Homo sapiens: one gene and its partners. The protein of the gene in region 6 purifies or fractionates together with the protein of the main gene of each other region. This does not show direct contact. Each region holds a gene or a part of one and is shown on either strand. Other genes may lie near its edges. The genes, in order: DBH, CANX, SLC25A13, PABPC4, PRDX2, PPT1 and CTSD.

Region 1 (3,992 bases), on a different chromosome or scaffold from region 6:
AGGCCAGGAGTTCAGGACCAGCCTAGGCAACATAGCGAGACCCTATCTCAAAAAAAAAAAAAAAAAAATCCAAAATTACATGTATTTATAAAGTAATAAAGCAGTGCTTGTTCTCAGGGTTGTGCCAGTGCAGGGTGGGCACCTGCTATCAATCACCATCTTAGATGTGGCACCCTGGTTTCTCTCTCCTTTCCTGTTCATGTCCCACCCTGTTCCCAACTCTCCCCTTTCTGAGGCTCCGCAACTCTCCTGCCTGCATGAATGTGGGCAGCATTGGTCTGAGGCATTGTTCCCAGTCTTGAGGAGGCCTTGGGAGCCTCAGGCATCTTCTTAAGAAGCTCAGTGTCCCGCCCGCCAGGCCCGGGAATGCCCATGGCTAACAGAACCTGTGACCTGCTGGCAAGTGACAGCCCTGGTTCCTGGCTGCAGAGGAGGAACCAACTCCACTGTCGGGGCTCATCTCCACTGTCTCCAGGCAGAAATGGAGATAGAAGGTGTGAGTGAAGCCACAGCCCCAGGCAGAACCCTCAGATCCACAGGGACTGAGGCCCAGCATCCCCAGATCAGCTGGCAATGAATGCGGAGCTCTGCCGGGGAATGCCCTCTTCCCCTGTGGATTGGCCCGGCTTGGCTCCTTCATGCCTGGAGCCCAGTGCTTGTCTCTGCAGGACGCCTGGAGTGACCAGAAGGGGCAGATCCACCTGGATCCCCAGCAGGACTACCAGCTGCTGCAGGTGCAGAGGACCCCAGAAGGCCTGACCCTGCTTTTCAAGAGGCCCTTTGGCACCTGCGACCCCAAGGATTACCTCATTGAAGTAAGGGGTGGCCGCGAGTACCCAGGAGGGCGTGGGCTGCGTGTATCATGCTGCCATCCTGTGCCAATGTCATAGTACCTTTCCTGTCCCTGATAAGTCTGGGGCCTGGGCCTGGCCAGCTATGACAGAGAGAAAGCCAAGGAGGATGGCCAGAGGCAGTGGTGGGGCCAAAGCACTTAGGATGGTCCAGCTCTGCTATTGCCCCTGAGCCCTCAAAGACGCAGCTCTTTGCCAACACGTAGCTGACATGGTTTCTAGATGCGGGGCTTGTGCTGAAGCCTCTCCCATTGGACTAGACCTTGCTTCTGGATGTCTCTCTCCTCCTGGTCCTGTTAACCATCAGGTGGGATTCTGGAGCCCAGGCGACCTGGCTTTCCATCCCGGCCCTGTTGCCAGCTCGCTGTGAGGCTCGGGACAACTGCCCCCCTCCTCTGGACCTCACTTTGCCCATCTGTAAAATGGAGATGGGAACTAGATGATCTGTATGGCCTGACCAACTCTGGGAGTTCATGGGAGCCATAAAACATTGTAAAAGCCATAGGCTTCTTATGCTGCTCTAAGAGCCCCCCAACCTCTTAGGGAAAGCAACCCACCTTGCCCTTGAAGACAAAACTCTTTTAACTCTAGCACACCTGACAGCTTTTGTCTTGTGTAAGTAATCCTTTGGTGTGGCAGTGGCCTGGGCTGGCCGTTAGTGCCAGGTCTTAATCATGGGTGTAGCTGAGTGACCACACGGGAGGCCAGTGCCATCGAAAGATTGATTGCATTTCCGGAGAGAAGGGGCACCTGTGCCGTGCAGGGCCACCTGCAGAGCCCTGGGTTTGGTCAGGAGGCAGATGCAGGAGCTAGGGGAGAGCCCAGGCCTGAGGCTTTCTTGGGGTTTCCATGGGAAAGGCCAGGCAGGGCAGGGAAGTTGCTTCATTTGGACAATTCTGGTGGGCTCTGGGTGGCCGGGGTGGTCTCTAGTTGCCTGGTTCCTGGCCCTAGGGTGATTTAGGGCTGAGGCAATATTGGCCTGGTGTGTGACAGTCAGGTGGAGGAGGTGGCTAAGGATATGGGCTTGGGACGGGTTGGAGGGTTGGGAATATGATTCTCACACAAGCGTGAATGTTGGAGGGAAGGGCAGGTGTAAACAACTCTGGCCATCTGTTTGAGCCTGCAATCCATTAATAGATGCCAAATAGACAAATACGGAATCTAAGAAAACAGAACAGCTGGCTGTTTGCCAGATGAGGAAACTAAGGCCCGGAGACGGGGAGTGGATGTACCCAGGGGTTCGGGGTGTGCTGGGGCAGACCTGGTGCCAGAAGAGGTGTTCTTCCAGGAGGTTGTTGAGCCCTTACCCTGCTTCCCAGTGGACGAGGCAAGGGTGAGCAGAGAACCCTCTGGAAGCACCTCACAGGGGGAGGCCAATGCCTGTGTGTGCTCAGCCCAGTGGCCCCAGGCCAGGTATAGGGGCCTTTGCCTGGAGTTCTGGGCGTCCCCTGCACAGGGCGGCCCATCGGCTTTCCGCAAACTCAAAGAGCAAATTAGCCACCCACACGGGTCTGCACTGTGGAGTGCCCAGAAAGCTATGAAAGGCACTTTCCACACCCGATCCCCGTTTCCATTCATGACAGCATGTGAGGAAGCCAGCCCCACAGCTTGCCTCCTGAGTCTGCCTGTGGCCTCCAGCACCGCGTAGATCCATGGAGCTTTCTGTGGCTGCTTGGTCCCCTCCTGCCAAGCTGGTGGTGACTACATAATATAGCGTGGCTCCGCAGCTCAGCGTGACCATCAGCAAGCCCCAGGGTGTTTCCTTCCCTTCATAGAGGGCACTGAATCCTCAGGCTGGGCTGCTGAACTGACCAATGATCCCCCACACCCAGTCCCCAGTGACCTTGGGGTTGGTGGAGGGAACAAATGTTCCGGCCACACTGGCTCACGGCGGGCCCAGTAGTCACTGGTTGAATGGATGTTAAGTGAATGTAGGTGGAATGTGTTTAGAAGAGAAAAGTATTTGATGGCCGGTGCAAATAGGGGATCCTGGGGGTCGTCAGCCCGGGATTTGGCCCCAGCCAGGGCCATGCAAGCCTCAAGGGTCCCTTATTCACAGAGATGAGAGTGAGGTGTGTCACCTGGTAGGTGTGGGTGGGCAGGGATGTGGCATCCTCTCAGGAGCCCAACTCTGGGGGCTCTGAGAGGGCGACCAGCTGAACCCTGTCTCGGCTGCAGGACGGCACTGTCCACTTGGTCTACGGGATCCTGGAGGAGCCGTTCCGGTCACTGGAGGCCATCAACGGCTCGGGCCTGCAGATGGGGCTGCAGAGGGTGCAGCTCCTGAAGCCCAATATCCCCGAACCGGAGTTGCCCTCAGACGCGTGCACCATGGAGGTCCAAGCTCCCAATATCCAGATCCCCAGCCAGGAGACCACGTACTGGTGCTACATTAAGGAGCTTCCAAAGGGCTTCTCTCGGCACCACATTATCAAGGTACGTGCGGGTCCAGGGCCGAGGTCCTCGCCCAGCCCTGCCTTCCTCCCGGGCCTGGGTTGTCCCTGACCCTGGAGAGCTGTCCACAGTCCTGGTTGGACCAGGTGTCCTCTTATCACTGGAACCTCAGGCACCTGCCTGAGCAGGGGAGCAGCAAGTGGTCTTGGCTTCCCCATCACTCTGCTCACTCCCCTACCCTCAAAGGGCCTTGGAGCTCCCACTTCCCTGCCTGGACCAAAGTGACCAACATCTTGACTTCTGCATCTTTCCTTGGGACTGGAACTGCTGTCTGTCTGCCAGGCCACCTCCCCCTTCATGAAAAAGCAGCTCGAGTCAGAACTCACTTGCTCTCGAACACCCGTCCGGGGAAGACAGAATAGCAAAGGCGATAGCTGTCGAGTGTCCACTATGCCACTAGTCCCGGGGGAGGGGCGAGGTGATCCCTCCTTCATCATAAGAGCCCCTAGTTTCCAGCAGAGGAAGTGTGGCCCAGGGAGGTTGAGTGTCCAGGGTCACATAGCAAGAAGGGGCATGTCCTTGAAGGTGCACTCAGAGAGGTTATGTGAGTGTCCAGAGTCACACAGCAGGAAGAGGCATGGCCTTGAAGGTGCGCTTTGGGCCCGGGCTCTAACCTCAGGGCTGCCCTGCCTCCCACTGGGGCTGCAGGAGCTGGCCCGGCCACAGCCCCATATGCATGAGGACGGC
Region 2 (3,992 bases), on a different chromosome or scaffold from region 6:
AGTTCTCCTGACTCAGCCTCCCAAGTAGCTGAGACTACAGGCGCCCGCTATCGCTCCCAGCTAATTTTTGTATTTTTAGTAGAGAAGAGTTTCGCCATGTTGGCCAGGCTGGTTGTGAACTCCTGACCTAGTGAGCCACCTGCCTCGGCCTCCCAAAGTGCTGGGATTACAGGCGTGAGCCACGGCGCCCGGCCATCTCTGTTATTTCATTGTAATGTTTTAACGGGTACCCCCTGTAAATTAGTGTATGAAAGGGCTTTTGTCTGTTGTAAAGCACTTTACAAATGCAAAAGTTTGTTGGAAATTGTATTTGAATGCCCCACATCTGTGTAACCAATCCTCTCTATATGAGGATGTTGTGTATGTTTCAGTTTTATTTTGAAATTTTCCAGAAATGGAATCTTTTAACTGATTTTAGGGAAACCCTTTAATCTCTCTAGGCTGCCTTTCTTTATCTATGAAATGAAATAGTAAGTTCTTTTTAGCTCTGCGATTTAAAAGCTTTAATTTTAAATGAGAGAGTGGTTAGTGATCTTCATGAAGTTTGATAGGTGGCAATACATTTAACTGATTTTGCTCTTTATGTGTAGATCATGGAAGGGAAGTGGTTGCTGTGTATGTTACTGGTGCTTGGAACTGCTATTGTTGAGGCTCATGATGGACATGATGATGATGTGATTGATATTGAGGATGACCTTGACGATGTCATTGAAGAGGTAGAAGACTCAAAACCAGATACCACTGCTCCTCCTTCATCTCCCAAGGTTTGAAATGGTCTTTGAATCTATTCCTTTTACGTCTTGAGATGATAAAATTATGAAGATACCCGGGTGCAGGGAAATGTAGTCTCAACTACTCAGGAGGCCTAGGACAGGAGTGTGAGTCCAGCCTTGGCAACACAGGGAGATATCATCTCTAATAAAATATAAAAGAAAAACATGGTGAAGATAAATTTGGAACGTTTTCAAAGGGAAAGCAAAATTCGTGAAAATACTTATTGATCTCTCTGGCAGCCTTTGTCTTGCTAGAGGCCAATTATATGGGTTGAATTTGAAGGCCAGCTATGAAATTTTTGTGACAGTTGAAAGCAAACCAGGAGAATAGATTCTAGATAAAAAGGCATGTTGCTGAAAATTTAAATTTTTAATTCATTTATGTATTTAACACAGGTTACTTACAAAGCTCCAGTTCCAACAGGGGAAGTATATTTTGCTGATTCTTTTGACAGAGGAACTCTGTCAGGGTAAGTGTTTTCCAGAGAAATATATGTTAGAGGCAGACATGTAAATAAGATGGGATAGTAGATTCCTTTTTGGATAGCATCTTTTATAGTGAAATGTCTAACTTTATTTTATTTTATTTATTTATTTTTTGAGACAGAATTTCGCTCTTTTGCCTGGGCTGGAGTGCAATGGCGTGATACCGGCTCATTGCCACCTCCGTCTCCTGGGTTCAAGTGATTCTCCTGCCTCAGCTTCCCAAGTAGCTGGGATTATAGGCATGCGCCACCATGCTGGCTAATTTGTGTGTGTGTGTTGTTATTTTTTTAGTAGAGATGGGGTTTTGACATGTTGGCCAGGCTGGTCTTGAACTCCTGACCTCAGGTGGTCCACTTGCCTTAGCCTCCCAAATTGTTGGCATTACAGGCATGAGCCACCGCACCTGGCCTGAAATTTCTAGCTTTAATATCTTCAGTGTTAACATCCATGCAGGAAAATAGTCTTTTGGAATTTGTGGTTTTTACTTCCACTTCTTTCCCTCCCCCACTCTACCCTATATTTTGTTCTTTGATTGAGGAAAAAAATTTTCTCTTGATGTTAAAACATCAGTGGAATTATCTCATAGGTTTGGTACTTTTTCATATAGGTTTGTGAGTTGAAGATAATGTATTATCATTAGTTGTGTGACAGATTTAAAGGTTGGAAGTAGAGTGGTTAAATAGGCTAAGAGCAGAATAGGTCCTACTTTAATGAGTATTTACATAATTTTCCCTCACAAGTCAACTGTCATTTTAAGACTGATTTTGGGATTTGTTATTTACAGGTGGATTTTATCCAAAGCCAAGAAAGACGATACCGATGATGAAATTGCCAAATATGATGGTGAGAATCCCATTTGGTTTAGATATAATAGCAGATAGAGGTTTGACATGTTGTCTCCATGGCATTTCCTAAGACTAGTTTAAAAGGACATAGTAGGCTTTAAGATTTTTCCAGCCAGGTGCGGTGGCTCACGCCTGTAATCCCAGCACTTTCGGAAGCCAAGGCGGGCAGATCACGAGGTCAGGAGATCGAGACCATCCTGGCTAACACAGTGAAACCCCGTCTCTACTGAAAATACAAAAAATTAGCTGGGCGTGGCAGCGTGCATCTGTAGTCCCAGCTGCTGGGGAGGCTGAGGCAGGAGAATGGTGTGAACCCGGGAGGCCAAGCTTGCAGTGAGCCGAGAACGCGCCACTGCACTCCAGCCTGGGTGACAGAGCGAGACTCCGTCTCAAAAAAAAAAAAAAAAAAAAGATTTTTCCATGGAAGTTTTGCCACCTTTGTGTGTTGCCTAATTTTTTTTTTTTTTTTTTTTTTATTTAAGGTTCAGGGGTGCATGTGTAGCCTTATATTTAATAGGATTAGATCTGTTTAATCACCTGTGCTACTGAATGTTGGAAATTTCTAGACAGTAGTATAATACACTACAGTTTTAAAAAGCCATATCTGAATAATATTTGCCAAATAAAGTGTGTTTATTTATTATTTATTTACTTTTTTGAGACGGAGTCTCATTCTTGCCACCCAGGCTTCTGGAATAGAGTGGCGTGATCTTGGCTCACCGCAACCTCTGTTTCTTGGGTTCAAGCGATTCTCCTGCCTCAGCCTACCGAGTAGTTGGGATTACAGGTGCCCATCACCACGCCCGGCTAATTTTTGTGTTTTTATTAGAGATGGGGTTTCACCATGTTGGCCAGGCTGGTCTCGAACTCCTGACCTTGAGTGATCCGCCTGCCCTCAGCCTCCCTAAGTGCTGGGATTATAGGTGTGAGCGACCACGGCTGCCCCAGTATAATATATTTATGCAACTAGGAGGTGTTTTTTTTGGCATTTAAAGGACCTTCAGAGGTAGAGTTAAGCAGTGGAACTTTTTTGTGTTGTCTTGTAGGAAAGTGGGAGGTAGAGGAAATGAAGGAGTCAAAGCTTCCAGGTGATAAAGGACTTGTGTTGATGTCTCGGGCCAAGCATCATGCCATCTCTGCTAAACTGAACAAGCCCTTCCTGTTTGACACCAAGCCTCTCATTGTTCAGTAAGTGAAATGCTTGTTGGATAAAAGCTTTCTGCAAAGGGTAATCTTAGAAGACATTATGTAACTTTTACTCTATGTTAAAAAATTATGAGATTATATAAGTGGTGGTAGGGATTTTTGGGTGAATTTAAACACCTTGTAATTAATAGTTTTTCCTGGCTAATGCATTATTTTGAAAGAAACTGGTTACTTATTTTCCTGACTCTAAATAACTTGTAGATTTTGCAGAACAAATTTACCGGAAATCTGCATTAATAGTTTTTGTAATTAATTAATTACAAAACTAGTAATTAATAGTTTTTCCTGCCTAATGCATTATTTTGAAAGAAACTGGTTACTCATTTTCCTGACTCTAAATAACTTGTAGATTTTGCAGAACAAATTTACTGGAAATCTGCATTAATGTTCAATTTAATTTTATTTATTTTTGTGGCATTTGATAACTATTCAAAAACAATAGAAGATGGAATCCTTTGTAAGGGTAAACATTTGACCTATGATAAAACGTGACTAAGATGAGGGAGAGAGGAAATACATTAAGAGAGTTTCGATCTTTCAAAATGCCATACAGTTTTCTGCTTTTCTCTCTGATATTAGGTATGAGGTTAATTTCCAAAATGGAATAGAATGTGGTGGTGCCTATGTGAAACTGCTTTCTAAAACACCAGAACTCAACCTGGTATGTAATTCCCATTTCTGG
Region 3 (3,992 bases), on a different chromosome or scaffold from region 6:
CCAGTCCAGAAGACTTCAGTATGTAGGGAATCACTGGCCTAGAGCAGTGCCAAAAGCAAAGGCATTCATGGGAATTTGGACCAATAACAAATGTTTCTGGGACTCCATTTCTAGGACTCTCCTGGTAAAAGGGGACAGGACTGAGGAAGGAAAGAGTAAAGATCATTGTGTTAACATAAATTCCAAGGCCATCCAGCTCCAACAAGATAAGAACCCCTAAAACCCAAACAGTGGAGCCATAGATATTTGTTTTAATAATCATCATCATGGTAGCATAAAAACAACTCAAACCTTCTTTCCTCCATTCCTAGCACAAAAACTGATTTGTTTTATTATGATATCACCAAATACTTAGTAGAGTTTTTACATAGGGGAGAAAAAACCCTGCCATTTGAAGAATATCTTTAATAACCTCAATATATTTTATCCTCAATGACAAACCTCTGAAGAGGGTTTTATGATGGGTGAACAATGTGGAAGACATGGAGGTTAAATATACAGCCCAAAGCCTGGGCGACATAGCAAGACCCCCGTCTCTACAAAAAAAAAAAAAATTTTAATTAGCTGGGTGTGGTGGTGTGTGCCTGAGGTCCTAGCTATTCAGGAGGCTGCGGTGGGAGGATCTCTTGTATCCACGAGGTCTAGGCTAGAGTGAGCAATAATCACACCACTGCACTTCCACCTGGGTGAGAGAGTGAGACCCTGTCCCAAATATATATATATATATTATAGTCCAAATCCTAATGGAAACTGGATTAAAGGTATATGACAGTGGTGACAGTTACACAACTCTGTGCATATATTGAAAACCAATAAATCATATGCTTTAAATGGGTAAATTGTATAGTACTTGAATTATATCTCAATAAAGCAATTAAATAAAAGGTATATGACAATTCCTGTCCTGCAGGGATTTGCGATCTGGTTGGAGAGATGAGAAATACACTTAATAAACACTGAAATGAAGCATATACAGAGTGACAAAGGTGTTCTAAGATAAGAACTACTGGACTGGGATGATCAGGAAATATACACATCCATACCCGATGGCATGTGAACTCTCACACATACACCTTCGCAAATGGAACTCTTGGTAAGACCTGGGAGAGCAGCGCAGAGGTTAAGAGCAGAGACTCTGAAGACACATTGGCAAGGTTCAAATCAAGACTGTAGCACTTACCTGTTGCACAAGCGTGAGAAATTACTTAACCTCCCCTAACTCAGTTTTCTCACCTGTAAGTTGAAGTCAAAAACAGAAAGCACCTACTTCTTAGAATTAAGAAAATTAATTGAGTTACTATTTGTAAGGCTCTTGGAAAAGTACCTGGCATGCAAAAAGCACTAGGTAAGGCAGTTCTCAAATAAAAGTCTGGTTTACACTGAGACACCTACCCCTCTCCTAAGTCATCTCCCACACCTCTCCCATATACTTTATTCTCCACCACACTAAACTACCAGGCACACATGGTGGACAGAGTGAGGCCACAGCTGCTGGAGCCAGACTGGCAGGATTTGAACCCCAGCTCGATAATTTCCTAATTATCCGATCTTTTTTATTTTATTTTATTTTTTTGAGACAGAGTCTTGCTCTGTCACCCAGGCTGGAGTGCAATGGCACGACGTCAGCTCACTGCAACCTCCGCCTCCCAGGTTGAAGCAAATTCCCCTACCTCAGCCTCCCGAGCAGCTGAGATTACAAGAATGCACCACTATGCCCGGCTAATTGTTTCCTATTTTTAGTAGAGATGGGCCAGACTGGCCAGGCTGGTCTCAAATTCCTGACCTGAGGTGATTCACCTGCCTCGGCCTCCCAAGGTGCTGGGATTATAGGTGTGAGCCACCGTACCCAGCCATACTTATCAGATCTTAGGCCACTAACATCACCTCTTGGTATCTCAGAGCCTTCATCTATAAAAAAAGGATGATAGTAACTAACTCAAAAGGCTGAGGCATTAAATGAATCAACAACGAAACACAGTTGGAACTGAATTTTAAATGAATCAACAATGAAACACATTTGGAACTGAATTTGGTATCTAGTAAGCGCTCAGTAAGTGTCAGCTGCTTTTAGTTTTTATTACCTGCTGTTAACTAAATGTAGCCTGTGCTCTCACCTCCCAGCCCTTCATTTGTTTCCAACCACTGGATTGGATCTTTACTCTTCCCCATCCATTCCTTCTGAAATACTAGCAATTTTCAGAAGACTTCCCTCATCTCCTCAGAAATGGGCTCTTCTCCTACTGCTCCCACAAACCTTGTAGTGGGAGCATTTCCATCAGAGAACTTAGCCCCCTGGAATGGTTTTGGTTTTCTTGAACATCAAAATGGAGTCCAATTCATTTTATTTATTTTATTCTATTTTATTTTATTTTATTATTTTATTTTACTTTATTTTATTTTTTTTTGAGACAGGATCTCGTTCTGTAACCCAAGCTGGAGTACAGTGGTGCTATCTCAGCTCACTGCAACCTCTGCCTTCTGGGCTCAAGTGATCCTCCTGCCTTAGCCTCCCAAGTAGCCGGGACCACAGATGCGTGCCACCATGCCCAGCTAACAATTCATTTTAGTATTCTCAATTTTGTCCCATTTGCAACACTGGAAAGAACACAATACACATAAATGAATCAATGATCACAGCAACAACTCATCCAAGAATGAAAAGTCAATACAAAGTGTACTAGTCCTACAGACCAAATTGTCTTTATTATTAATGCTTTAATGTGCCCCCAAATTTCCTTCTTTTGGTTCTAGGCTAATATTGGTCTGTGTTCAGTTTTACCCCAGAACATCTCACAGGTCTGAACTCAAGGGAGCATATTCTAACTTTTAGTAGGTTCATATAGGTTAATTACATCATTCGTAACGCATAAATTTAACCAATGACGAAGAAGAAAGCTCTCCTTTAACCAAGAAAAGGGCAGAGACGAAGAAAAGGGTGACCTCTCAATTACCACCTTTTAAAACTGTTTTTTTATGGCAGTTTTGGGAAATGTTTAAAAGAAATATTCAAACAACGCAAACAGTACAGGCAGATCTAACAAGGGAACCCACAAGGATTATTCCTACAAACGTAGGCAGCAAGAGAATGGACACTTTTTGAGATAATCTCAGAATACTAAGAGTTTTAGATTAATGTTCATTCACGAAAGAAAACAAACACTTCTTGAACCATTAACTAGTAATCTTCATAGCAAAATTCAAAATAAAAAGCAGCCAAAGACTAGATTCTCCATCTCCCCATTAAAACTATTTAAAGGAAGGTCATGAATAATTAGCTGTATTTAAATAAGTATAAAGACCAAAGAAAGAAACAGATCAGAAAACTAATTGCTAGTTGTGGCTACATCTATCCAGAAAATACCAAATCTGCTTAAATATTCAAACAATTTGTCACAGTGAGTGTAGTGAGTGTTGGAATTCTCACAGTTGCTGAGTCCCCAGAGTCTCAGCCCAATTTCCTAACAGTCCATTGAGGTGAAGTCCTCTCCTATCCAGGCTCCTCAACTTTTAAGAGGGAATGCCAACCCTACCCCTATGGCTCTGTGTTCAGCTGGCAACATGGAATAGCTATGCTCCAGGGAAAAAGCAAGGAGCACAGCCTTTAACTCAGGCTGCCAACAGAATCAACCGATAAAGGTGATGCCCAAAGGCAGTTCAATAAGGGACATTCTTGGAATAAGTTAGACCAGCAGCTTCATTGAGGGACCTTTTAAGGCCACATTTACTGCACTGCCATTGAGTTATAATGAAGGACATGATAAGAAATGGCCTTATGTAACCCACAGACATATATCTGTGGTCACAAGGTAGATTCAAATGCCGTTCACTCACAGCATATAAAAGAAACTGCTCGGCTGGGCGTGGTGGCTCATGCCTGTAATCCCTGCATTTTGGGAGGTTAAGGCAGGCAGATCACGAGGTCAAGAGATCCAAGACCAGCCTGGCCAACATGATGTTGGCCTACTAAAAATACAAAAATTAGCTGGGTGTGG
Region 4 (3,992 bases), 510 kb from region 6:
TCCCACATTAAGTTCATCATTCACAAATGGCATTCTTCCTAATAGACAAGGTTATTCACTGTCTTCTCTGGTGTGACTGTCATTGTTTTATGTCTTAGTTAATGGCCCAGAGAGCCTCCTGAAGTGGAGGATAGGGAAGTAAAGAAGTGCATCACTCCATAACTCTCTACCAATGAGATGGGCCAGTAAGGTATGTGAATAAAAATGCCACACCATCATAATGAAAATGGGGACAATTCAAGGTATGGCTCTTCTGCTCTCTTAACAAATGCCAACTTGACTACTAGGCAGATAAGCAAGGATAGAAGATCACTCCTTACACTGATGAGGGCCAGTCAAGGGGGGGGTCATAGCAAAAACGAAAGGGTAAGAACTGGGCAAACCCACAGTTGGCCTCTGGCCAACTCCCTACTACAACTGATAACATTGCTTTCCACATTCCCAGGTTGGGAGCAAAGTCCACTAAGAGCCAGGGCAGGGCCACTAAGCCCTTACCAGCCCACGTGGCTTCCCTTCTCATCAACTAAAGGATTTTGTGGCATCTGGTACACCTGTTTAGCAAGACCGGCGTCTGCATCCGGCCATAACTCAAAATGTTCAGATGGCACCAGTTTCCATCCTGCTCCCAAAGTGCCAAGGACAAGCAGTACACCATCCCCATGTAGTCAGCATTCTCTTGTTCAAGGACTAAAATTCCTTATCTTTAAAATGAGGTTCCTACTTACCCTGCTAACTTAGTTGATATGATTATCAAAGAAAATCAAGCAAATGATGCACACTACGAAACATAGAAAAACCTTCCACTCCCCTTTCCTCTCTTTTTAAGACCAGGGTAGAAGTTCCCAAGCCCACCTCCAAAATCTTCAAAATACCTTCATTCTCAAGGAGAAAATGTGGCAGAGCTGTAGAGACAGGCCCCAAGACAAATGGAAAACAACCTGTCTGGATTTCCTCTGCTCATTCTGTAGCACCATCTGTCCCCACACCGGCACGAGGCAGCAAGGAATGGGAAAGATTCAGGTGCTCTGAGTTGGCAAGGAGGGGCTGGGTCAAATTCCTCTCCAGACTCCAGTGCTTGGGAAACAGTGTAATGTTAACCTAATGAAATGTCATTCTCCAGAATGCATCCAGAAATTTTGCTAGAAAAACGTAGTAGCTACTTTCAGAAATGAACATAATTTAAATGCTATTCCTTCAATGGGACAAATGCCAATAAGCCTATAATGGAATACCACTGCTTTCAATCCCCAGATCGCAGTATAATACCTTAGCACTGGTAATTGATCCAAAAGGAGAAAATTCTTTCCTTAATTTCTCATCATCAATAGTGTCATCCAAGTTCTTAATGTAGAGATTCACCCCCTGAAGGAAAAAGATCACTGTTAACTACACTTCTATATCACAAATATTCCCTAAGAAAGTGGTTCCCCAAGGGTGGCCCCAGACCAGGAGCACCAGCATCTTTGGGAACTTGTTAGAAATGAAATTCTCGGCCGGACGCGGTGGCTCACGCCTGTAATCCCAGCACTTTGGGAGGCCGAGGCGGGCGAATCACAAGGTCAGGAGATCGAGACCATCCTGGCTAACACAGTGAAACCCCGTCTCTACTAAAAATACAAAAAATTAGCCAGGCATGGTGGCGGGTGCCTGTAGTCCCAGCTACTCAGGAGGCTAAGGCAGGAGAATGGTGCGAACCCGGGAGGCGGAGTTTGCAGTGAGCCGAGATTGTGCCACTGCACTCCAACCTGGGCGACAGAGCGAGACTGTCTCAAGAAAAAAAAAAAAAAAAGAAAGAAATGAAATTCTTAGGCCAGACCCCAAACCCAATGAATAAGAAAAACTCTGGGGCTGGAGCCCAGCTATCTGTTTTAACAAGCTCTGCTGATGAATCTGATGCAAGTCCAAAGTTGTGAAACTACTGCCCTGAAACTGACAGGATCATCAGTGCACTCACCTTTTGTCACCTCTCCCCACAGCTGTTCTGGTGACCACTCACCCACCCCAGCAGGGGTCTTCTTGAAGCCATGCCAAACAAAGGAGTCTCATTTAAGTAAAAGGAACCTACATGGCTAAAAGCAACAGGCTGAGGCTTCCAAAATAGAGAGCTTCTTGATGAATAAACCCATCTCTTGTTTCTGGTTCTATAATAATCAGTCATATGTAGTAGGTATATATCCTTTTAAACCTCATCTTTTTAGGTAAAATGGGAAGAAGAACACACTCCAAGTCCTCAAAAAGAAAGCCCGCTAAACATAGGGGTGTTCTGCAAATATTTCACAGCAAATCCCATTGCTAGGCTGGGCCAAGACCACCTTACCTGATATCGACTAATTCTCTCCTGTTTCAACTGTTCAAATTTCCGTTTTAACTCTGCCTGCCGTTCTACTTTCTTTTGTGCACGGCCTACAAATATGATTTTACCACTTATTTCTTTTCCATTCATCTCTTCCACAGCCTAGAGAGGAAAAATATGTCTTTAAAATAAAGTTGCAGCGATGGGGTCTTATTCTGGAGGTCTAAGTCCCAAAAAATATTCTTTCTACTATAGGACTAAAAACTAAATTCACTCCACCTCTGAAGTCTGTCACACAAATCCAAACTTCCTCATCTGTAAAGTGAGGTTAATATTTAAATGGGTTATTGATCCAGATAATATAGAAATAGTACAGGTGTATAAACACAAGTGTGCTGACATGAGCCTAGGGCGATATAATATTCCGGCTGCCAGTAAATTCTGCAGGTGCTTTTGTGGGTATTTAAGTGATAAATATTGAGGGTCTGGCACAATGCTTTGCCCACAAGTAGCTGCCGTGCTGTTATCAAATCAGCACTCACTGGGCTTTAGTTCTCTCACCTTTGCAGCATAACAAACGTCTGTCCTATTCTTTCAACAACTGATAGCTGAGGTGACAGGTATGTGCCAAGTGCTTTGTAAACACCTACATGAAGTTAACATGCGGAACCCAGGAAGATGATCCCAGAGTATAGTAATGGTACATCTACTACCAGATACTCAGACCGTCCCAGCTCTAGGTAGGTGCTAGCAAGACCCTACCCATACTCTGGGGCAACCTCTTAAAAGCTTTTCCCAATCTTTGTGGTATACTCACCTTATTGGCATCCTCGTGTTTTTCGTAACTCACAAAGCCAAAGCCTTTGGATTTCCCATTGGGATCTCTCATCACCTTGACACTTAGGGTCTTACCTATTACCAAAGGACAGAACTATTAGTAACACCATCTTGAGCACAGCTCAGGAACAGAAGGCTTCCCTCTGGAAACTCACTTGAAGCAAATCTCTGGAGCAGTGCCCTCATCTCTTAAGAAAAAACAGATGGGTCTGGTAGACTGTGAAAGGAGACAAGGAACCCCAACTTACCAAACTGACTGAATAGCTCTTTCAGACTCTCATCATCCACCTCTTCCCCAAAGTTTTTGATATAAACATTGGTGAATTCCTTGGCTTTGGCTCCAAGCTCAGCTTCCCGCTCTTTGCGAGACTTGAATCTGCCCACAAATCTAAAATGAAACCATGAAGAACAGTAATTACCCAGAGGAATAAAACATGATGTCCAGGGACCCAAAGGAATACAGGTTAAAGACTGACAGGAGAGGTTAAAACACGAGATCCCCATCCACCACCAAGGAGGCTCAGAGATACCCCAAGTCCCCAGCAGAAAGAGAAAAAGGCAGGACTATCCTGTGAGGACCAGCCCCAGGGCTCCTGGCTTAGACCAGGGCTATTCCTACCACATCACACTGCCTTCATGAAGAAACCTGATGGCCATGTTTTTAAAATGTTCATTTCTGTGCAACTATGTAAATGCATAGAAAAGGTCTGGAAGGATACAAACCAAACTGTTAACAGTGGTTAATCCTAGATATGAGATTGTTGGAGTGAAGGGGCACCCTTTGCTTTTTAAATTTATTTATTTTGGTCTGTTATACTTAAAAGAAAATTTATCCATGCACTGACATTTTTGTATTTCTTTT
Region 5 (4,423 bases), on a different chromosome or scaffold from region 6:
TCCATGTTGCCCAGGCTGGTCTTGAATTCCTGGGCTCAAGCAGTCCTCCCGCCTCGGCCTCCCAAAGTGCTGGGCCATCAAGTCAGGCTAATTTTAAAATATTTTTTGTAGAGATGGAGTCTTGCTGTGTGGGCCAGGCTGGTCTGGTCTCCGAGACCAAGGGATCCTCCCACCTCAGCCTCCCAAAGTGCTAGGATTATAGGCGTGAGCTACCGCGCCGGCCACTGTGATCACTTTAAAGGGCTCTTTACTGAATCTGCCCCTTTCCCCTATGAGACAGATCTTATCCCAACTCCGATCTTATCCCAACTCACCGCTCACCAAGGTCTGACACCTCCTACCCTCCCACACCCATGTCTCTGCCACACCTCACCGACCTCTTTCCATTTCTCCTTCAGGACTTTTCACCTTGGCATTTGCTATTCCCTCTTCCTTGGACATTCTTTCCCCAAATCTTTCCATATGGGACTTTCGCTTGTCGTTCTCGCTGCACTGGTCACGGGTCTTCTGCAATCGGACCCTCTCTGATTTCCCAAGCTTGCCCGCCCCCTTCTTTCTCTGTCTCTGCCCTTCCTGGCACCTATCCCCGAGTGACAGCTTCAGTGTCCTGCCCACACCCTCTCTTCCCCTGGGAGCTGCTTTAAAGCAGTATCTATTTCAATATATCCAAGAGTAAACCGAGCCTTAGAGAAAAGTAACCAGCCCAAGGGGACGCCTCCAGTGCGGAGCTGGGTGGAGATTTGCAGCCCGCCGAGGAAGGTCCCTTTGCAGCCAGCAGGAGAAGTAGGGCAACGGGGAGCCTTTGGGCATCGTCATCCCCGCCGCCTGAGGTTACCCTTTAGATGCTGCAGCCTCAGCTGCTCCCAGCTGTCACCTTCGCCCTGCTGCCCTAAGTACTGATAGTCCTGGTAGACCAGGGCAGGGGTCGCCAGCTGCAGGAGTAGCAGAGGCGCCAGCAGCAGCGCCCCCGGGGTCCGCGCCATGCTGGACTCCAACGGCCCCCAACGCGCTCCCAGGCGGAGTCGTGCGCGGAGTCTGCGGCGGGCGCATTACCCACGCGGGCAGGTGCAGTGGTCCCGGCCGAAGGCAACGCGTCTCCCCCCGCCGCCCGCAGGCGCATGGACCCGGCCGCACGCTCCCCCGCACCTGCGGGCGCAGTGGACCCGACCGCTCCGCTCGTCCGCTCCCTCCCCCGCGCCGTGCACGTCTTGGTTCGGGCCGGGCATAAAAGGCTTCGCGGCCCAGGGCTCACTTGGCGCTGAGAACGCGGGTCCACGCGTGTGATCGTCCGTGCGTCTAGCCTTTGCCCACGCAGGTATGAACACCCGGAGTGCACCTGGCGGGAGGACCCCCTTCAGGCTGCTTTGGCCCGATCCTGACTTTAGTGCTGGCCGCCTTTGCTTTCCATCCGCTATAGTGGCCTCCTTTGTCCTTGCGGGGGAAACCGAGGCCACAGCCTTGCAGCGCAGGCCTGATCGCCCGACTTCCCGCCCCCTGCTCGTGCGGGCCTCACTGTCTCCTTCTGGGCTGGGGGCTTGCGACACCGCCCTCCGGCCGACTCGCTCGTGGGGTGCTGGTGGCAGTGGCTGGGTCACTCGTGCTCTGGTCAGGAGAGCGGGTCTCCGGCAGCCTCCGGGCCTCGTAGACCGGGTACCCGGGAGGGTGAGGGTTAGTGCTGTCGCCTCCGCCGTGCTGACTCAGTCATAGGGCCCAGCACGCAGCGCGACCTTGGGTTGGGAGGACAAAGTGTCTTCCCGGGCGCACTGACCGGGCGGGGGTCTCAGCTTTCAGTCATGGCCTCCGGTAACGCGCGCATCGGAAAGCCAGCCCCTGACTTCAAGGCCACAGCGGTGGTTGATGGCGCCTTCAAAGAGGTGAAGCTGTCGGACTACAAAGGTGAGCGCCGCCCGGAGGGGGCCCAGGTAGAAGCGGGGCCGTGCATGAGAGAAGCTGGGCCCTAACTCCTCTGTGTCCCTCCTCCCCAGGGAAGTACGTGGTCCTCTTTTTCTACCCTCTGGACTTCACTTTTGTGTGCCCCACCGAGATCATCGCGTTCAGCAACCGTGCAGAGGACTTCCGCAAGCTGGGCTGTGAAGTGCTGGGCGTCTCGGTGGACTCTCAGTTCACCCACCTGGCTTGGTATGAGCAGGGGCCAAAGAGGGAGGTTGCAGCTAAGCTCACACCCTCAGGTCCTAGCAGTGTGGCTTCGTGGCCATTGCTCAACCTCTGGAACCTGCGTTTCCCCATCGTGAAAATAATGGAAACATTGCCGCCCAAGTCTTTAAGGATGATGACAGTAATTAGCATTTGACAACTAGTTGCCTGGTATATAGAGTTGCAGATGCAACTCAGATGCAACTCTATCTACTCTATGTACTTAGTTCCCAGGAGGGAGGCTGTGCTGCCCTATTTCATGAAGATGGAAACTCCAGTTCACCGAAGTGAAGGGCTGTACCCCATGACACAGCTAGAGGAGGATGGGGACTCTTAACACAGGCTCTCTGCTGGGTGATGCTGCAAGTTACAAGTACATGTGAAGCCACTTAGCTGGAGCTGTGCCTCTCAAACTCAGTCTTCCCAGCCATGGGGATACAGTCCTTGCACCCAACCCAGGGTGGGGTGGGTGAGGCTCCCAGCGGCCTACTCTAAAGCCCCTTATCTCCGGCCTCCAGTGCTTATCACATTGGGCCCACAGGGTGAGGACCCTGCTGTGCCAGGCATCCTGAGGCCCCAACTCTGTCTCCCCTACTCCCAGGATCAACACCCCCCGGAAAGAGGGAGGCTTGGGCCCCCTGAACATCCCCCTGCTTGCTGACGTGACCAGACGCTTGTCTGAGGATTACGGCGTGCTGAAAACAGATGAGGGCATTGCCTACAGGTACTGTGGGACCCTCAGCCCGGCTCAGGGAGCGCCCTGCCCCCCATTCCTGTGATGCTGGGACCACTCCTGTACAATGTCTTCTCTGCCCCCAGCCCTGTGGCTAGCAGCGGGTGGTTGGTAGTCCCTTCCTTGTCTCTGGCAGTGGGAGCTATCAGCTCCTCACTGGGAACCCTGATGTCTTCAGGGGCCTCTTTATCATCGATGGCAAGGGTGTCCTTCGCCAGATCACTGTTAATGATTTGCCTGTGGGACGCTCCGTGGATGAGGCTCTGCGGCTGGTCCAGGCCTTCCAGTACACAGACGAGCATGGGGAAGGTGAGCAGATACACACATGACACATGGGTACATACTGAGCGCCTCCGTCACTCATGCAAACATTCACTGCCTGTCCTCTTACCTGTCCAGATGGGTGTTAGGGCCCCAAAGAAGATTCAGCTCAGGGCTTTGTCTGCAGGATGTTTCTAATGTGGTAGGAGACAAATAACGCCTGACATTCAACCAAGGTGGACAAAGGGGCCGGGCTCAGTGGCTCACGGTTGTATTGCCAGCACTTTGGGAAGCTGTGGCAGGTGGATCACCTGAGGTCAGGAGTTCGAGACCAGCCTGACCAACATGGTGAAACCCCGTCTCTACGAAGAACACAAAAAATTAGCTGGCCGTGGTGGTGCACACTTGTAATCCCAGCTACTTGAGAGACTGAGGCAGGAGTTCGCTTGAACCCAGGAGGCAGAGGTTGCAGTGAGCTGAGATCGCACCGTTGTACTCCAGCTTGGGCAACAGAGCAAAACTCAGTCTCAAAAAAAAAAAAAATTAGCTTGGTTTGTGAAGCATGCCTATAGTCCCAGCTACTCAAGAGGCTGAGGCTGGAGGATCACTTGAGCCTGGGAGGTCAAGGCTGCAGTAAGCTGTGATCGCACCACTGCACTCCAGCCTGGGTGACACAGCAAGACCCTGTCTCAAAAAAACAAACAAACAGGCCGAGCGCGGTGGCTCACGCCTGTAATCCCAGCACTTTGGGAGGCCGAGGCGGGCAGATCATGAGGTCAGGAGTTTGAGACCAGCCTGGCCAACATAGTGAAACCGCGTCTCTGCTAAAAATACAAAAAAATTAGCTGGGTGCGGTGGCAGGTGCCTGTAATCCCAGCTACTTGGGAGGCTGAGGCAGGAGACTCCCTTGAACCCGGGAGGAGGTTGCAGTAAGCCGAGATCACACCACTGCACTCCAGCCTGGGCGCCAGTGTGAGACTCCATCTCAAAAACAACAACAACAAAAAAACCTGTAGGGGTGGGGCAGAGGGACAAAGATGGGACTAAAGGAGCCAAAAAGACAGGAAGATGCTGTGTCTCATGCCTGTAGATGCTGTGTCTCATGCCTGTAGTTCCACCTACTCTGGAGAGTGAGGCAGAAGATTGCTTAGGCCCAGGAATTTGAGTCGAGCCTAGGCAACATAGCAATACCCCATCTCTTTTTTTTTTTTTTTAAGAGATGGGGTATTGGTTAAAAAAAAAAAAAAAAAAAAAGAGGCCAGATGCAGTGGCTCA
Region 6 (3,992 bases):
GAATTTCCACCTCGCCCAGTCAGCAACCTGCCGAGCTTATCCTGTGTGTTTCAACACTAGGAGAGGGAAAGAACTTAAGGGAAGAAAGGCAAATGAATTTCAACCTCCCTAAAGGGAACTGAATCTCAAAGGCCCTGCCTCCCAAAAAAAACAGAACTTCTCTTTCCTAGTGTCTGCCCAGGACAGTTTGGGTAAACAGTCACTGCTGATTTGTTTATGAAGACCTAAACAGGAAAAAGAACGCACATCTATGGGAGCCCGGTTTGGGTGCTTACCCGCTCCTGATTTATATCTGCCAAGAAGATGCTGTGGTTGCGATACACATCCTCCTTTATGGGGTCATGCCAGTATTCGGCTTGCACGAGGCTGTAGGAAAAAAAAAGAATGAGGTGATCAAGCTACAGGTCAGTCAGTACGCCCAGGGCATGCTCAGTGCAAAGGCCACCAAGAGACTTTAAAAGGACAAAAGGCCAGCCAGGCACAGTGGCTCACACCTGTAATCCCAGCACTTTGGGAGGCTGAGGCAGGTGGATCACGAGGTCAGGAGTTCAAGACCAGCCTAGCCAAGATGGTGAAACCCCGTCTCTACTAAAACTACAAAAATTAGCCAGGCGCGGCGGCAGGCGCCTGTAATCCTAGCTACTTGGGAGGCTGAGGCAGGAGAACTGCTAGAACCCCGGCGGCAGAGGTTGCAGTGAGCTGAGATCGCAGCACTGCACTTCAGCCTGTGCGACAGAGTGAGACTCTGTCTCAAAAAACAAGGACAAAAGGCCAAAGCCCTCAAGTCCCAGGCCTTACCCTTTAATACAGAAGACAAGACTTGCACCTAGGAAACAGTCTGTCAACAAGACACCTTGTTGAGACAGACTGTTCAGCATAGTACAGAAATTATAAAAGATTCAGGCAAAGGACTCATCAATATTTGCTTCTCCTGTGACACTGGGGTTTATCATACTTATCATGCTGATATGGTTTGGCTGTGTCCTCACCCAAATCTCATCTTGAATTGTAACTCCCACAATTCCCATATGTCATGGGAGGTGACTGAATTACAGGGGTGGGTCTTTCCTGTGCTGTTCTCGTGACAGTGAATAAGTCTCATGAGATCTGATGGTTTCAAAGAGGGGAGTTGGGCCAGATTCTGTGGCTCATGCTTATAATCCCAGCACTTTGGGAGGCCAAGGCGGGCAGATCGCCTGAGGTCAGGAGTTCGAAACCAACCTGGCCAACATGAGGAAACCCCGTCTCTACTAAAAATACAAAAATTAGCCAGGCACGGTGGCATGTGCCTGTAATCCCAGCTACTTGGGAGGCAGAGGGAGGGAGAATCGCTTGAACCTGGGAAGCTGAGGTTGCAGTGAGCCAAGATCACGCCATTGCACTCCAGCCTGGGAGACAGAGCGAGAATCCATCTCAAAAAATAAATAAATAAATAAATAAATAAATAGAAAATAAAATTAAGAGGGGAGTTTCCCTGCCCAAGCTCTCTTCTTTTGTCTACCGTCATGTGAGATGTGCCTTTCGCCTTCCGCCATGATTGTGAGGCTTCCCCAGCCACATGGAACTGTAAGTCCATTATAAACCTCTATTTGCCCAGTCTCGGGTATGTCTTTATCGGTAGCATGAAAACAGACTAATACAGTAAATAAGTACCAGTAGAGTGGGGTGCTGCTGAAAAGTTACCCAAAATGTGGAAGTGACTTTGGAACTGGGTAACAGGCAGAGGCTGGCACAGTTTGGAGGCCTCAGAAGAAGACAGGAAAATGTGGGAAAGCTTGGAACTTTCTAGAGACTTGTTGAATGGCTTTGACCAAAAGCCTGATAGTGATATAGACAATAAGGTCCAGGCTGAGGTAGTCTCAGATGGAGATGAGGAACTTGCTGGGAACTGGAGCAAAGGGGACTCTTTATACTTTCTTTCCAATCTCTCTCCACTTCCTCTTCCCTTCCAGCCCCCACCTCCTCAAAATGGGCACGGTTACCCCAAGGCCTCACATGGGGAAATTCGAACAAACTCTATCCCAGGTTGGCAGGGAGAGAAATCAAAATTTCTACAACATACGCTCCGTAGCCAGAGTGGAAGAGCTGCCCAGAGGCAGTGGTCCTGAAAACGCCACTCGGTGGAGCAGGCTGGCGCTAAAGCCCAACAGAGCCAGCTACGTCAGAGATGGAGCTCTCCCTCCCAGGAGCAGATGAGACTGAAGTTAAAGGAAGCAACAGTCAGAGTGACATTCTAGAATGTGTTTATACATGTATTTGAAACCTTTTAAAGGTTTAGAACTCTGAACATTTATAGAATGCAAAAAAAAAAAAGTTCCTGAGGAAAATTAGAAGTGTTATTTCAGTGAACACACAAATAATAAGGAAGCAAAACAGTCTTATTGCTGCTATGGAGAAAATCTGAGTGGTCTAGATAGAAGACCAAACCAGCCACAACATTCCCTTAAGCCAAAGCCTAATCCAGAGCAACGTCCTAACTCTCTTCAATTCAATGAAGGCTGAGAGAGGTGAGGAAGCTGCAGAAAAAAAGTGTGAAGCTAGCAGAGGTTGGTTTGTAAGGTTCAAGGAAAGAAACCATCTCCATAACACAGGAGTGCAAGATGGGGCAGCAAGTGCTGATGTAGAAGCTGCAGTAAGTTATCCAGGAGATCTAGCTAAGATACTTAATGAAGGTGGCGACCATAAACAACAAATTTTCAGTGTAGGTGAAACAGTCTTAAATTGGAAGAAGATGCCATCTAGGACTTTCACAGCTATAGAGGAGAAGTCAATGCCTGGCTTCAAAACTTCAAAGGACAGGCTGACTCTCTTGTGAGTGCCTCATGGAGCTGATGACTTGAAGCTGAAGCCAATGCTGGGTTACCATTTTTTAAATCCTAGGGCCCTTAAGAACTACGCTAAATTACTCTGCCTGTGCTCTACAAATGGAACACAAAGCCTGGATGACAGCAGATCTGTTTACAGTGTGGTTTGCTGACTATTTTAAGCCCACTGTTGAGACCTATTGCTCAGAAAAAAAGATTCCTTTCAAAACATTACCACGCAGCTGGGCATGGTGGCTCATACCTACAATGCCAGCACTTTGGGAGGCCAAGGTAGGAGGACCATTTGAGGCCAGGAGTTCAAGACTAGCTTGGGCAACATAGCAAGACCCCACCTCTAGAAAAGAAAATTCTTTTTAAAAGTAGCCGAGCATGGCGGTGCATGCCTGTAGTCCTAGCTACTCAGGAGGCTGAAGTGGGAGGATGGCTTGAGTCCAGGAGGTGAAGGCTGCAGTGAGCTGTGATCACACCACTGCACTCTAGTCTGGGCAAGAGAGCACAACCCTGTCTCAAAAACTATTTTTTTTAATTAAAAAAAGTTTAAAAACAAACTCAAAAAACAAACAAATATTACAGCTCATTAAAAAGCACCTGGTCACCCAAGCGCTCTGATGGAGATGTACAAAGAGATTAATGTTGTCTTCATGCCTGCCACAGCACATCCATTCTACAGCCCATGGATCAAGTAGTAATTTCAATTTTCAAGTCTTATTATTTAAGAAATACATTTACAAGGTTGTAGCTGCATAGACAGTGATCCCTTTGATGCATCTGGGCAAAGTAAACGGAAAACCTGATGGAAAGGATTTATCATTCTAGATGCCATTAAGAACATTAACGGGCTGGGTACCATGCACTTTGGGAGGGTGAGGAGGGAAAATCAGTGGAGCCCAGGAGTGTGAGACTAGCCTGGGCAACATAAATGAGATCCTATCTCTACAAAAAAATTAAAAAATTAGTGGGGTGTAGTGGCTCACACCTGTAGTCCCAGCTGCTCAGGACGCTGAGGTGGGAGGATTGCTTGAGCCTGGGAGGTTGAGGCTATGTTGCAGTAAGCTGTAATGGCACCACTGCACTCCAACTTGGGTGACAGAGTGAGACTCTGTCTCAAAAACAAACAAACAAAAATTCATGATTCACGGGAAGAGGTCAAAATATCAGTATTATCAG
Region 7 (3,992 bases), on a different chromosome or scaffold from region 6:
TGGCCCAGGCTGTGTCTTGTTCCCAGCGCTGAGGGCAGGAGCAGGACCTGCCTGTCATTGGTGGTGGGAGTAAGAGGTCGGAGCAGGGAGCGGAGCAAGGGGCCTGCCCGTCTGTGCTCCTGCCTGGTTCCCATCTCGTGTAAACCGAGCCCTGATGACTTCCACGAAGAGGGCCCCGCCATACCCCGTGTCCCCATCCCCAGCGGTGTTCAGCTCAGGGTTTCCAGCCCTTTCTTCTGGGCCCTCTGGGCCCCATCGTGTGTGGGATGGGCATCCATTGAACTGGGTTTTGTAGCCTCATGCTCAGGGAGTGGTGTAGGGCTCAGCCTGTCTGCTGCCCACTGACTCTGCCCTGGCCTGCAGGTGCCCTGCCAGTCAGCGTCGTCAGCCTCTGCCCTGGGCGGTGTCAAAGTGGAGAGGCAGGTCTTTGGGGAGGCCACCAAGCAGCCAGGCATCACCTTCATCGCAGCCAAGTTCGATGGCATCCTGGGCATGGCCTACCCCCGCATCTCCGTCAACAACGTGCTGCCCGTCTTCGACAACCTGATGCAGCAGAAGCTGGTGGACCAGAACATCTTCTCCTTCTACCTGAGCAGGTGGGCGTGTGGGTTCCCTCTCGCTCCGCGTTGCTGGGAGGCAGGGCGGGGCTGGACGGGGAGCCTTCTAGGCACCCCCTCTCAGTGCTGCCCCCTCCCTGCTGCTGTGCCAGAGCTCCTGACCTCTGACCTCAGGGCATCCGGGAGGCGGGGGTTGGCCGCCCTTCTGCAGAGGAGTAAGCGGCAGCACAGAGAAAGCTGTTTGGCCGGGGTCTCCCAGTGGGAGGGGCTCGGGCCAGGCTGTGGGTCCTGGGACCTTGGCAGCTGGGCCTCCCTCCTATGAGAATGGACCCAGGTCAGGGGTCGTGGCAGTTCCTCTTGGTTCAGTCGGCCCGTCGGTCCCCAGACCTGGTGATGGGCACATGTGGTCCTGGTCCCGGGGTTGCTGATGGTGGAGAGGGTCATGGTGCCCAGGGGACCGGGGATCCCCGGGGAGGTGACCTTGGGTGCGTATGGGTCCCCGGCACCACGCTGCGAGCAGCTCTGTGGGCGTCCCCAGCAGGTGCCGGCTGCCCTCGAGGAGGAACATAGGGGGCCCTTCCTTCTGGGAAAAGGGTTCTCCCCCAGGGCCCCCACCTGCAGCCGCTGCTCCAGCTTGGGTGACCCATGGTCAGGTGACCTTGGGAAGGGGACGTCGGACTCAGTTAGTTTCCTCTTCTCGGGGCAGACCTGAGTGGAGGGTTCCACATAAGAGGGGTGACTGGGGGTTGGGGGCTTTTGTTTTGGGGGTGGGCAGCGTGTCAGCCGGCGGCCTCCTGCCCTGAGCTGCGCCTGGTCACTGCCCCACACTCTCCAGGGCTGACAGGGGCAGGTTTACCTCACGTGGCTCACTTGGCACTTGGAGTCTCTGGGCCTGACCCCTAACCTTGGATCGCTTCCGGCAGAATTCCGGCTGTAGGGCTGGCTGGGCCTCTTTGCTCTGCCCCTTGCCTGGGCAGTGAATACTCCTTAGCAACACCCAGGGCTAAGCTGCTCACTAGAGGCCAGGACACAGGTGAACCGGCTGGGCCATTTCCCCAGGAGCCTTGGGGCACAGGGGAGGCAGCCAGGTGAAAAGGGGTCCCCTGAGGGCAAGAGGGCATGCAGGCATGAGTGCCCACATGGGGAGGGGGCACACAGCCTGAGTACCCAGGTCAGGGAGGGGGACACAGGCATGAATGCCCATGTGGGGGAGGGGCACACAGCATGAGTGCCCATGTGGGGGAGGGGCACACGGTATGAGTACCCAGGTCGGGGGAGGCATACACAGGCATGAGTGCCAGGTGGAAGGAGGGGCACACAGAGTGAGTGCCCAGGTGGGGGAGGTGCACATGGTTGTGAGTGCCCAGGTGTAGTCTCAAGGCAGCAGCTTGGGCAGGAAGTGGAGCCAGGCAGGAGGGAGGGTCTGAGGGCTTCTGAAAGCATGTTTGGTGAGGAGAGGAGGGGTGGGAGGCGCTGATCAGGTTTCTACACTTGGGATTGCAGAGGTGTTGACAAGAGGCAAAGGCGGAGGAGGCTGGAGGAGGGCGGAGGCCCCAATCGGTGTTGGGAGGACTGGGTCAGGCCTGGCACTGCCTCGAGTGACAGGCAGTGGGATGGTGGCCAGCTTAGCTGCAGACGCTCTGGCGGGATGGCAGAACCGCCCCAGACACAGAGAGCTTCTCTACCAGGACCGGCAGGATTTGCTGCGTTGAAAGCTGTACTTGAGCAATGTTTAGAAACAAACCCGGGCGACATGGGTTGCAGGTCCTAGGAAGTGCAGTGCGCTCCTGCCCAGGAGCACCTTGGCTGGCCATCAGTGGTCTGGATGAGGGGGAGATGAGCGGACGTGGCTCGGGGATGCAGGTGGAGGGTGTTCCCAGGAGCAGCCAGTGCAGAGGCCCTGCGGCCAGAACCAGCCATCCCAACTTCCCAGATTGTGCCATCACTCCCTCCTGGAAGCCTTCTTTGGTTTTTTCTTCCAGACAGACAGACAGGGTCCTCCCCAGTGGAGCTCCTGGCACTCACTTCCTTGTCTGCCGCTAGCCTTGACCCTGATGTCTGGCTGAACCTTGGCTCCTGAGCAGACCAGGAGAACCTGAGGGTTGAGGAAAACCTCTTCTGGGCCAGGCTGGGCCCACGCAGAGCAGCCCTACCCCGGGAAGAAGGGAGTCTGTCCCTCCTCCTGCCTTCTGGGCCTTTCCATCCCTGCAGTTTCAGAAAGGCCCCTCCTTCAGGAAGCTCTCCCTGATTGCCACATTCACCCTCTTACTCCTGACCTGGCACTCTTGTGCTTGGGGGGTGGCGTGGCAGCTGACTCCTCCCTTTTCCTCCTAGGGACCCAGATGCGCAGCCTGGGGGTGAGCTGATGCTGGGTGGCACAGACTCCAAGTATTACAAGGGTTCTCTGTCCTACCTGAATGTCACCCGCAAGGCCTACTGGCAGGTCCACCTGGACCAGTGAGTAGTGGCTGCAGTCGGCTCCCCTGGGTTCTGTGGGCGGGGGCGGTGTGCGGAGACCCTGGAGGACCCCGGTTCTGCAGGTGGGGGTTGCATGTGGGGAGTAGTGGGAGCTGGGCAAGAAAGAGATGGGGTCAGACCAGCCCTCCATGCCCCTCCTTGCCCCTCCATGCTCCCCATCACCTCCATCCCCTCTATTCCCTCTATCCCTCCATCCCTCCATTTCCTCCATGCCTCTGTGACTCTCCATGACCCACCATCCCTTCTGTCCATCCCTCCATGCCCTCCATCCCCTCCATCCCCTCATCCCTCTGTGACTCTTCATGACCCTCCATCTCCTCCATCCCTCCATCCCCTCCATCCCTCCATCCCTCCATCCCCTCCATCCCTCCATCCCTCCATCCCCACATCCCTCTGTGACTCTCCATGACCCTCCATCCCCTCCATCTGTCTATCCCTCCATCCCTCCATCCCTCCATGCCCCTCCATCCCTTCATCCCCTCCATCCCCTCCATCCCTCTATGCCCCTCCATCCCCTCCATCCCTCCATGCCCCTCACCACCACCTGAGGGTCTCCCACCCCCTCTACCACTCTGTGTCTCCTCTCCCACCCTCTTCCCTGGAGGGCTTACAGCCGGCTGTGCTTCCAGGAGCCCTGAGGGGAGGAGAGTGCAGCCCAGCCAGGGGAGGGGCTCCCAGGGAGGGGCACTGGGCCCCCAGGGCACACTCCAGTCCCGGCAGGGGCTTCACGCCCTGACTCCCCGCAGGGTGGAGGTGGCCAGCGGGCTGACCCTGTGCAAGGAGGGCTGTGAGGCCATTGTGGACACAGGCACTTCCCTCATGGTGGGCCCGGTGGATGAGGTGCGCGAGCTGCAGAAGGCCATCGGGGCCGTGCCGCTGATTCAGGGCGAGGTGAGCGCCGGGGGCTGGGGCTGGGGCTGGGGCTGGCAGGGGGAGCCCCAAGGCCACCACTACCAC

What was found.
Region 1: the proteins of PPT1 (region 6) and DBH purify together in Homo sapiens (affinity purification with mass spectrometry; 2 studies listed by BioGRID, with this or other methods). This does not show direct contact.
Region 2: the proteins of PPT1 (region 6) and CANX purify together in Homo sapiens (affinity purification with mass spectrometry; 3 studies listed by BioGRID and IntAct, with this or other methods). This does not show direct contact.
Region 3: the proteins of PPT1 (region 6) and SLC25A13 purify together in Homo sapiens (affinity purification with mass spectrometry, with the first as the bait; 2 studies listed by BioGRID). This does not show direct contact.
Region 4: the proteins of PPT1 (region 6) and PABPC4 purify together in Homo sapiens (affinity purification with mass spectrometry; 2 studies listed by BioGRID, with this or other methods). This does not show direct contact.
Region 5: the proteins of PPT1 (region 6) and PRDX2 purify together in Homo sapiens (affinity purification with mass spectrometry, with the first as the bait; 2 studies listed by BioGRID). This does not show direct contact.
Region 7: the proteins of PPT1 (region 6) and CTSD purify together in Homo sapiens (affinity purification with mass spectrometry, with the first as the bait; 2 studies listed by BioGRID). This does not show direct contact.

Annotation. Positions count from the first base shown.
Region 1 is NC_000009.12:133,639,178-133,643,169, forward strand, and holds part of DBH (dopamine beta-hydroxylase precursor), read left to right. Parts: intron 1-668; coding exon 669-815; intron 816-3,029; coding exon 3,030-3,287; intron 3,288-3,992. UniProt on the Homo sapiens protein: Catalyzes the hydroxylation of dopamine to noradrenaline (also known as norepinephrine), and is thus vital for regulation of these neurotransmitters.
Region 2 is NC_000005.10:179,705,089-179,709,080, forward strand, and holds part of CANX (calnexin isoform d precursor), read left to right. Parts: intron 1-590; coding exon of another isoform or gene 591-593; coding exon 594-764; intron 765-1,169; coding exon 1,170-1,243; intron 1,244-2,043; coding exon 2,044-2,102; intron 2,103-3,150; coding exon 3,151-3,292; intron 3,293-3,889; coding exon 3,890-3,971; intron 3,972-3,992. UniProt on the Homo sapiens protein: Calcium-binding protein that interacts with newly synthesized monoglucosylated glycoproteins in the endoplasmic reticulum. It may act in assisting protein assembly and/or in the retention within the ER of unassembled protein subunits.
Region 3 is NC_000007.14:96,315,415-96,319,406, forward strand, and holds part of SLC25A13 (electrogenic aspartate/glutamate antiporter SLC25A13, mitochondrial), read right to left. Parts: intron 1-3,992. UniProt on the Homo sapiens protein: Mitochondrial electrogenic aspartate/glutamate antiporter that favors efflux of aspartate and entry of glutamate and proton within the mitochondria as part of the malate-aspartate shuttle.
Region 4 is NC_000001.11:39,566,485-39,570,476, forward strand, and holds part of PABPC4 (polyadenylate-binding protein 4), read right to left. Parts: intron 3,519-3,992; coding exon 3,379-3,518; intron 3,206-3,378; coding exon 3,111-3,205; intron 2,456-3,110; coding exon 2,318-2,455; intron 1,363-2,317; coding exon 1,267-1,362; intron 1,027-1,266; exon of another isoform or gene 890-1,026; intron 1-889.
Region 5 is NC_000019.10:12,798,632-12,803,054, reverse strand, and holds the start of PRDX2 (peroxiredoxin-2), read left to right. Parts: upstream 1-1,254; 5' UTR 1,255-1,315; intron 1,316-1,784; 5' UTR 1,785-1,793; coding exon 1,794-1,896; intron 1,897-1,985; coding exon 1,986-2,139; intron 2,140-2,755; coding exon 2,756-2,878; intron 2,879-3,065; coding exon 3,066-3,196; intron 3,197-4,423. Other genes in the region: THSD8 (thrombospondin type-1 domain-containing protein 8 precursor), read right to left, coding at 836-983.
Region 6 is NC_000001.11:40,080,122-40,084,113, forward strand, and holds part of PPT1 (palmitoyl-protein thioesterase 1 isoform 1 precursor), read right to left. Parts: intron 367-3,992; coding exon 276-366; intron 1-275. UniProt on the Homo sapiens protein: Has thioesterase activity against fatty acid thioesters with 14 -18 carbons, including palmitoyl-CoA, S-palmitoyl-N-acetylcysteamine, and palmitoylated proteins. In contrast to PPT2, PPT1 can hydrolyze palmitoylated proteins and palmitoylcysteine.
Region 7 is NC_000011.10:1,753,928-1,757,919, reverse strand, and holds part of CTSD (cathepsin D preproprotein), read left to right. Parts: intron 1-363; coding exon 364-596; intron 597-2,891; coding exon 2,892-3,014; intron 3,015-3,781; coding exon 3,782-3,926; intron 3,927-3,992. UniProt on the Homo sapiens protein: Acid protease active in intracellular protein breakdown. Plays a role in APP processing following cleavage and activation by ADAM30 which leads to APP degradation.